2 separate regions of the Homo sapiens genome follow, and region 1 is linked to region 2. The links come from fine-mapping of genetic effects on gene expression. A gene starts in region 2. The other region holds a variant in brackets. All regions are shown on one strand. Distances are between the middles of the regions. Region 1 has its middle 46 kb from the start of POU2AF1. Region 2 holds the start of POU2AF1 (POU class 2 homeobox associating factor 1).

Evidence for each region. PIP is the estimated chance that this variant, and not a neighbour inherited with it, causes the effect.
Region 1: its variant is fine-mapped to the expression of POU2AF1 in whole blood (TOPMed, PIP 0.97).

What each region holds. Positions count from the first base shown.
Region 1 is chr11:111,423,002-111,427,270 of GRCh38, forward strand. It overlaps a transcript of BTG4 not described here. Among named protein-coding and RNA genes, the nearest start is that of POU2AF1, 46 kb to the left of the region's middle. The variant T/C (reference allele first, on the strand shown) is at 1,765.
Region 2 is chr11:111,376,664-111,380,932 of GRCh38, forward strand. POU2AF1 (POU class 2 homeobox associating factor 1) reads right to left here and starts at 2,612. Exons shown (of 5, transcript NM_006235.3): 1 at 2,499-2,612. The coding sequence starts at 2,514. RefSeq lists enhancers at 2,539-2,588, 3,239-3,328, 3,549-3,768.

The sequences.
Region 1 (4,269 bases), 46 kb after region 2:
CTGGACACAGTGCATTTCCATTTCTTTTCCAGGTGGGGACCCTGTAGCCAGTGACTCCTGACCTGGCTGCTCCTCAGCAGACACCTCAGGTTCCTCCTGCAGAAGAGACCCCTGTTGGCCACTCCTAAGCCTTCCTCAGGTGCCTAGATAGCCCCTCCACCCCGAGTCAGCAAGAAGGGCCACCGCAGTGACAGAGCTCCCCCTACTGAGAGCTCGCTGTGGTGGCGGGCCCGGGAGACCGAATGAGGCACTCTCTCCCCTAGAAATTAGATTCTGGGAACATCTTCCAACTCTCCCCCAATCCACTGCTCCCAAATAAGGGCAGCATTATCTGGAAGATCCTAAGAATCAAATCCTTTTACATCAGTGCCATATCTCCATTGTCAAAACTTGAAATAACTCCCAGGACAGGCCCTTAGCCCAGCCTGGGCCAGACTAATGGCATGTGTTCCAAGGTCCCCACTGCACCGATCTCAAAGCATCATGTGCACCAAACCATTCAGTTAAGCATTCCTACTAACTACCTCCCAGAGAGCTGGCCTACCCCTCCCCAAAGGAATTCTTAGACACCTTGCCCACCCTTACACCACAGGCAGCTGAGCCCAAGCTGACAACTTCCAAAGGACCTGTCGATATCAATGACAATAAATAATAATATAACATGCTTGGTTCTCAAAGTATATGACATTCATTTAATACACAAAAACAATGCCACCACCCTCAAAAAATAGATATCACCATCAGATGAGGAAATTAAGGCATAGAAAGATGAGAGACATGCCAGGATGAAAACTCAGCTCCTTACACATAAAGACCACTTTCTGGAGGAGCTGTGAGCTGAGGACTGTTAAGACGAAAGGACATTGGAACCAGGAAATCTCCGAGGCCTGAGCTCCTTTCAGGGCCCTGCCAGAAGAGGAGGCCGAGAAAGCCAGACCTCTCCCTCCCCAGGTGCTAAGTCACCACAGAGACCCTCCCCAGGTCACCACAGCCTTAGAACCACCACCACCAGTGGTGACAGAAGCCTCATGGAGGAGCAAAATAGGTGAAGGGAAATGAGCACAGGCTCAGAGGCTTGACCAGCCTCTCCCATCCTGCCCATCGCAAGAAACATGTTCTTCAGAGAGCTCTTAGCTAGAGAAACACTAAAGGCCCTCACAGGTTCATCTTTAGGGCATCTCCCATCCACAGCCCAAGTCGATACAATCCAGTGCCCCAGGATACTGAGAGTGACACGGATAGATGATGCTCAATTTGGGAAGCAGCAAGGGCAAGGAAAGCAAGGAAACTAGCCTGGGCTCTAGAGCTGGATGACTTACAAAATGTTGGTGTCACTATCTAAAAACAAAGGAGTCAAGAGGAACACCATGGGGTGAGAAAGGAGATGATGAGTTAACGCGAAAATGCTGGGCGTCCTGCCCCACAACTTGGCATGGAATTCACCTCAATATAATTTTTGCTGTAAGATGACAGTGCTAATTTGTTCACATTTATTACAGTTGGTTAATCCACCCAAATAATTCATTTATTTGAGGCCAATAAACTGAATGCTAACTGGCCTCAAAGTCATTCATCATCATTAAGTGGTAAGGTTATGTGGTTATTAATAAACCAAGCCTGCAGATAAAAGATTTACGGTCACTTAAGCATTTGTTTATTAATTCAATAAAATTAGGCCAGATGTAGTGGCTGACGCCTGTAATCCCAACACTTTGAGAGCCCGAGGTGGGTAGATCACCTGAGGTCAAGAGTTCGAGACCAGCC[T/C]GACCAATATGGTGAAACCCCGTCTCTACTGAAAATACAAAAATTAGCCAGGCGTGGTGGCAGGTGCCTGTAATCCCAGCTTACTCAAGAGGCTGATGCAGGAGAATCACTGCAACCTGGGAGATAGAGATTGCAGTGAGCCAGGCTGTATTAGGTACTTTAAAAGATTAATAAAAACAAGCCCGGTCCCCAAGTAGCTCAAACCTTACTAGAGAAGAGATGTGATGTCAAGGGCCATGAGAGGGGACAAACTGCCATGGCAGTTTAGAAAGCGGATGAGCAGGTCCTTCTGTACAATCATAGAGGGCTACATGAAGGAAGGCGCCATTTGGGCTGGACCTGGGAAAATGGGTAGGTGTGGAACAAACTTTTATCATGGGGCATGCATTCCAGGCAGAACGTGTGCAAAGGAGGAGGTAGGAAAAATGAAGGGTATTTTTTAGAAGCAGTAAGGATTCCTGGAAGACAGTGGCAGCATTTCTGGGTAGGGGGTTCACAGGTGTTGTTGAGGCCCTGCTGCATGCCAGGCACTCTGTACCATAGGCAGGCTCCATGCTGATCATGGAGATAAACACATACACAAAAGACACAGGAGCCCTGGCCTCATGGAGCTCATAGTCCCTCCAAGGATACAGTCGAAAAAGAAGACTGGAGAGCCCCCAGTGCTGACCATTTAAGGAGCCTGGGGACTTGGGGGTTAGCAATGGAGAGTTAATGACAGTTTTTAATGCTGCAAGGTTATGATCAGCGCCTTTTAGAAGATTTATCTGGCCCGATAGTAGAAGAAAAACTTAAGAAGAAAGACGGGAAATATTGAAATTTCAGTTAAGAAACTACTGTAGTAACCCAGATGAGAGATAATTACCAAAATCAGAGCAGTAGGTAGGAAGAAAAATAGGGTATGAATGCAAGAGATACTAACCAAGCAGACTACACTCAATCTGGGAACTAGCAAGGGCAAGAAAAGCATCGAAATGGATCTGAGGGCGGGCACAGTGGCTGACGCCTATAATCGCAGCTCTTTGGGAGGCCAAGGTGGGAAGATCGCTTGAGCTCAACAGTTTGAGACTAGCCTGGGTAACATAGTGACACCCCATCTCTACAAAAAATTTAAAAATAGCTGGGCATGGTGGCACACACCTGCAGTCCCAGCTACTCGGGAGGCTGAGGTGGGAGGATCACGTGAGCCCTGGAAGTTGAGGATTCAGTGAGCCGAGATTGCGCCACTGCACTGCAGCCTGGATGACAGAGCCAGACCTCGTCTCAAAGAAAGAAAAAAAAGGAGAAACTGACCTGGGCTCTAGTGCCTAGGTGATTTACAGAATGTTGGCATCATTATCCAAAAACCAGGGTGTCAAGAGGAGCACAGCGGGACAAGGAGGAGGGTGATGAGTTCATGTGGGGTATGCTCAGTGTCTTCCCACAATGAGAAAGTGGGTGGTCCAGCCAGAGAGAGGTGAGAATTGCCAAGAAACCATGAAAGCAGTGACAGAGGAAGGGAAGGGAAATGAAAAAAAAATGGAAAGGAGGACTGGATTGAGAGTGGTTGTATCTACACATTGTATAGATCCTCCTGGCAGAAGACTCTAGCACCCATGGTTCTCTCTCCGTGTCTCCAAAGCTCTTTGGAAAGACACTTTCTTTGGCAAAAGAAAAGGAGAACACACAATAGAGAGAATGTACTGCAGAAATATGCATGGCAAATATGGCAGGGATAGGGAAAGGGGTTTGCATTGTAGCGGTGGTGGGTGGACAAGGTGTTTCAATCTGTAGTGTTCCCTTATAGTTCTAGCACACCTTGGGCTCTCCTCTCACAGTGACTCTCCCTCCATGCTCCAGAGATCCTGACTCCTCAGTTTTCCCATTGCTACCAGAGCCCAGGCCGGCCTGAATTCCAGATGATGACCACCACTAGATGAGAAAGACCAGATCAGAAGTCACCCTCTTCACCAGCACCCAAGGCTTCTTCACCTACACTCCCCTTACCACGCCCCTGTATCACACTGCATCAGAGGCAGGCAGGCCCGGGCAGGTTTGGCACAGCCAGCTCCCAGGCCGGTGTGGGAAAGTTAATATCACCCCGGAGTTTACTCAAAGTGTATGTGCCTTAGCAGAGCATGTTTTCTGGAGCTTCCCTGGGAGCTCACCAGCGCCATCAGAACATTTCTCAGTCTTTGCAAACACAATTGATTTACAATCCCACCACTGAAGTCACAAAGACAGAATGAAAATCAACTCCCCACAAGGATATTATTTCCTTGAAGAGACCTAGAATGATCTCAGTGACAGAGTTTCTTCATAAGTGGGTAAGAAAAAGTCCCTGCCTGCCTCCATTTTCTATTGGAACATCTCTTTTCTCTCATAATGCTGTTAAATATACCCCAGCAAAGTGGAGCTACTAAATTGAAATCATTAAGAAAGGATCAGTTCTCTACCCATCTCAGCTCTAGAGACTAGAGGAAAGGTGAGATCCATTCACAATAAGATGCTCTTCTTTCTGGAAAA
Region 2 (4,269 bases):
ATAGTACAGTCATTTCAGCTCATGCCTCGAGGGTGTTTTCTGAAAAAAGAAAGTGCCCTTTCAGCACTCTTGGTGTCTGATTTCAAACCCTGCCCTTCCATCGGGTGACTCTAAGTGGGCTGACATGCTGCCCTGTTTTTACTGATTTTCCCACACGGTTTAGTCACCCAGGTGCCCTCTATACCACATACTTGGGTTCAGGCTAAGGGGGTGGGTCCAGAGCCCAGGGTCTCTCCTACTTTTCCTTTAAGGCTTAAAGGACAATTCAAGATAATTTTGATTTGTGTTCATCTGAACATGTGGAAACATTCACCCCAGTTATTCCATTGATGAGCTTACAATGTGGTCTCCCTTACAATGGAGTTTTGATCTATCTGACTGGTCTCCAGGGTGTGAGCAGGAAGCATGCCCTCCAGCATCCCCTTTAAAAAATTTGGGGGACAGGTGCAGTGACTCACACCTGTTTGGGAGGTCAAAGCGGGTGGATCACTTGAGTCCAGGAGTTCGAGACCAGGCTGAACAACATAGTAAAACACCATCTCTACTAAAAATACAAAAAAAAAAAAAACAGCTGGGTGTGGTGGCGGGCACCTGTAGTCCCAGCTACTAGGGAGGGTGAGGCGAGAGAATCACTTGAACCCAGGAGGCAGAGGTTGCAGTGAGCCGAGATCGCGCCACTGCACTCCAGCCTGGGCAACAGAGCAACACTCTGTCTCAAAAAACAAACAAACAAACAAAAAAAGTCTGTTCATCTCTTAGAAGGAATTAGAAATGAAAAAATGTACTACAGAACCAAGAGGGGAGAATATGGCAGATGGTGAATGCAGGGAAGCAACTCATATCTCAGAGGCTGATGCAGACAGAGCAATGAACATGACTTCGGTGGCACCTCACTTACTAAGGATAGATCCTCAGTGTGGATATGATTTTTACCCCCACTTAACATACAAAAAACCTAAGGATTGAGAAAAAGGAAAGTGGCTTGCTCATAGAAGGTAGGAGCTGAGGCAAAACTCCTTCCAGGGGCTCACACAAAAATCAAATGATTCAGCCCTGAGTGAAAGGGCACACAGATGCTTAGGGGCCCCCAGTAAAAAGATGAATGCCCACCTGCTCTCATCCACACAGCACTCACAACAGGGTCAGCTGCCATTGTCCCAGAAAGGATAGGCTGCCGCTGCTCCATCGCCTGTTGGGAAGAGTGGCGTGCCAACAATTCTTGAATATTCCTAGTTATCTTGGAAGGAGTCCATAACTCTCAAACCCAAATTAAAGCTCATTTCTCTTTATTTTTTTAAAAAATTGACCTTTTGATATCAAACAATGGTGGGTCTTCACAACCTGAGAAATTTTGAAATCACTCTTCTGTGTTACTGGTTAATCAGCTTAATTCCAGAGAAATTTACATAAGACATAAAGCAAACAATAAATTGGTGATGACAGTGTCACATTTTAATCAATGAAGTTATATTTTCCGAACTTTAGTGGATCCAATCAAGTATCTTTCCATAAAATAAAAACATTCCCTAATATATCTTCTTCTGTAAATCTAGATTCTCTTATATTAAGCTTGCTTGAGGCACAGCATACTAAAATTAATTAAAACGAATTTTAAGGAACCAAGAATCTTTAAGAGAAAGACAGAGCAATTTTTGGTCATTCTTCTTGCTTGAGGAAGTATAGAACTAGCCCCAATAAGGTTCAACTCTCAGAAGCTGATGAGTTGACGCTGTTTACCTCGTGAAAAGAATGTTGTAAATAATCTGTATTATTTCAGTTATTAGTAAGGTAAGTCGCTGTTTGGTCCACATAAAGGAAAATAAAGTTCACAATTGTTTCATCCAACTCCGGGGATAAAAATCAAGGCCAAAGATAAACCCACTGCATCCTTTGCAGTGGGATGGACAAGCCTTGTCACAGAAGGGGAAAAAGAATGACGAAAGGCAAGACAGTGGAGCAAGTGAGGACACGCTTCACCGAGCCAGATCTCCACTCCTCCCAGGGTATCCACAGGGACAAGTCACACCTGGCAGAAAGCTAAGTCACTCAGCTAGAAACAGGCCCAGGGAATTCAACAGAAGGCTGAAGAGCCACTGCTTATGGAAATAAAGCCCCTCCTGTAAAGAACTGCATGGCTTTTCCCTCCCAACCCCAAACCCATCCCACATCTGGCTTTTGTTGTGTGAATCATAAACTGCCCTTTCTTCACCACAGTGATTCATGCACAGAAGCGGAGGTACCCTGAGCCGTCCCACCTTGGAACACTAGTTCGTTCCCCTCCAGCCTGGAAAATCAGCATCACCTCTGACAGGCTGGTTTCTCCACCAGGCTCCATCCCGCCCACCTCCCCCCTCCCTGCTCCGGGGCTTGGAACCCAGACCCCCTCCCCCCGTGGCCCCATCACCTCCACCACCAGCTCCCCAATTCCAGACCAAGCTGTGATCGCCCTGCCCCGCTGGCACTCGCTTGGGTCTGACAGCCACAGCCAAACCACTTACGTTTTTGCCAGAGCATGGCCTGTGACAGGATGTTGCCTTTTCTCTTTGAAGCCGACAGTTTGGCTTCTTTAATGTGAGACCGGGGTGTGTTTTCCTCCAGTGGAGCCACCGCTTGAGCTGAGGCTGTTTCCTGGGCTTTTTAAAGGCCTGGGTTCCCGCTGCGTGGGCCGCGTCATCACATCCTCCCACCTCAGGCACCGGTGCAACGTTTCTGCAGCCAGGCCGCCTGTCACCCCACTGTGCGCGCCCCAGCGGCCCCGGCCCAGAGCGCTCCACACTCGGAGCTAGCCAGCTGGGACAGAGCAACAGCGCAGCGCGGGCAGCCACAGCCTGCACCGGCCCCGCGGGGACCTGCTGTGTGTGGGTGTGAAGGTGGTGTGGGGCAAGCTGTGGGAACCCCGTGTCAAGCCCTCCCCAGGCCAGTGATGAGCCCAAAAGCTCCTCTGGAAAACGTTGATCTTTGCACGGCGCCCATGCAGGCTTCCAGGCCACCAGGGCATGGGCAGGACTCAGCCCGCCATGGGCGCCTGCTCAGCGGGAAATGCGATTCCCAGGGGTCACTGGTTCTCAACTGGGAGGAAACACCTGTCATCTCTTCAAGCCTCAGTAAACAACCTCCTCATTCTTTCAATATTGCTTTTCTGTTTATTCCATTTTGAAACACAGTAGCCCCTCCCCTCGCCCCCAGCCACCCCCAAAATGGCAAGGCTTAATCATGCTGAAATATGGGGGCGCTGGCTCTGATGTCGGCTATGCCCACGGAAAAAGAGGCCAACCCTCAAGGAAGGAAGGAGAACATGCCCGTGCTCTTTGACTGGATCTGGGCTTGTAGGCACAAGATGAACAGAGCCTCTTTGCGAGTGCCCACCCACTGATAACAGGAAGCTTCTTTAAGTAAGTCATGGGCTCACCATCTGGAAGTGTAGATGGTGTTGGCTACCGGTTCCTTCACAGTTTGGAAGCCTTCTGCCACTGCATATCTGAGGTCCACATGCTCAGGCTCCAGGGACTCAGTCAGTTTGGGGTCAAGACCCCTTGGCACACCCCCTAGAGCAGGTGTGGGGCCTTGCTGCTCTGCCATCCATACTGCCTCAGAGCCATCTTGCACCACCTAGACCTGATCATGCTATCCCCTAGCCTACAAAGCATTCACCTTCTCCCTTCAGCCACAGAGCTGGAGGCCTAGAAGGCCTCCCACAATCGAGCCGTTGCCTTCCTTTCCAGCCTCACCACCAACTGCCCTCCTACCACTGGTCCCAGTGCCCTCTAAGCACCACCAAACACCCATGCAATTCCCTGCCTTTGACCTTGCCGTCCTCTCTTGCCGGAAGGACAAACCCCCAGCCCAGAGAATACTTGTTCGTCTTCTCAGATCTTAGAGCACTTTGTTCATTATGTGATGGTGAATTGTCACATGACTCTGACAGTTTCTCAAGGAGGTTTCATCTTTGCCTCTCCAGTGCCCCACACAAGACCTGGAGCATAGTGACCCCCAATAAAAATTCATCTGATAAAGTTATGAATTACTGTCTCTAATCGGTTGCTGATTTGAGGGCAGGTCTTGAGGAGAAATGCTGTCAACATTTTATAAATGATTCACTTAAAAGCCAGAGAAGGCTGTCTCCTGGCTGCCTATAAGCCCTCCCCGCAAAGCCTCTGAAGTTCAGGACAGTGGAGGCCCCCATGCTGTGGTGGCTGGCAGCCCACACCCTGGCCTGGCAGGGGGCAGCATCTCAAGGCCTTGGGCTGCGCCAAGGAGTTTCCATGAGAA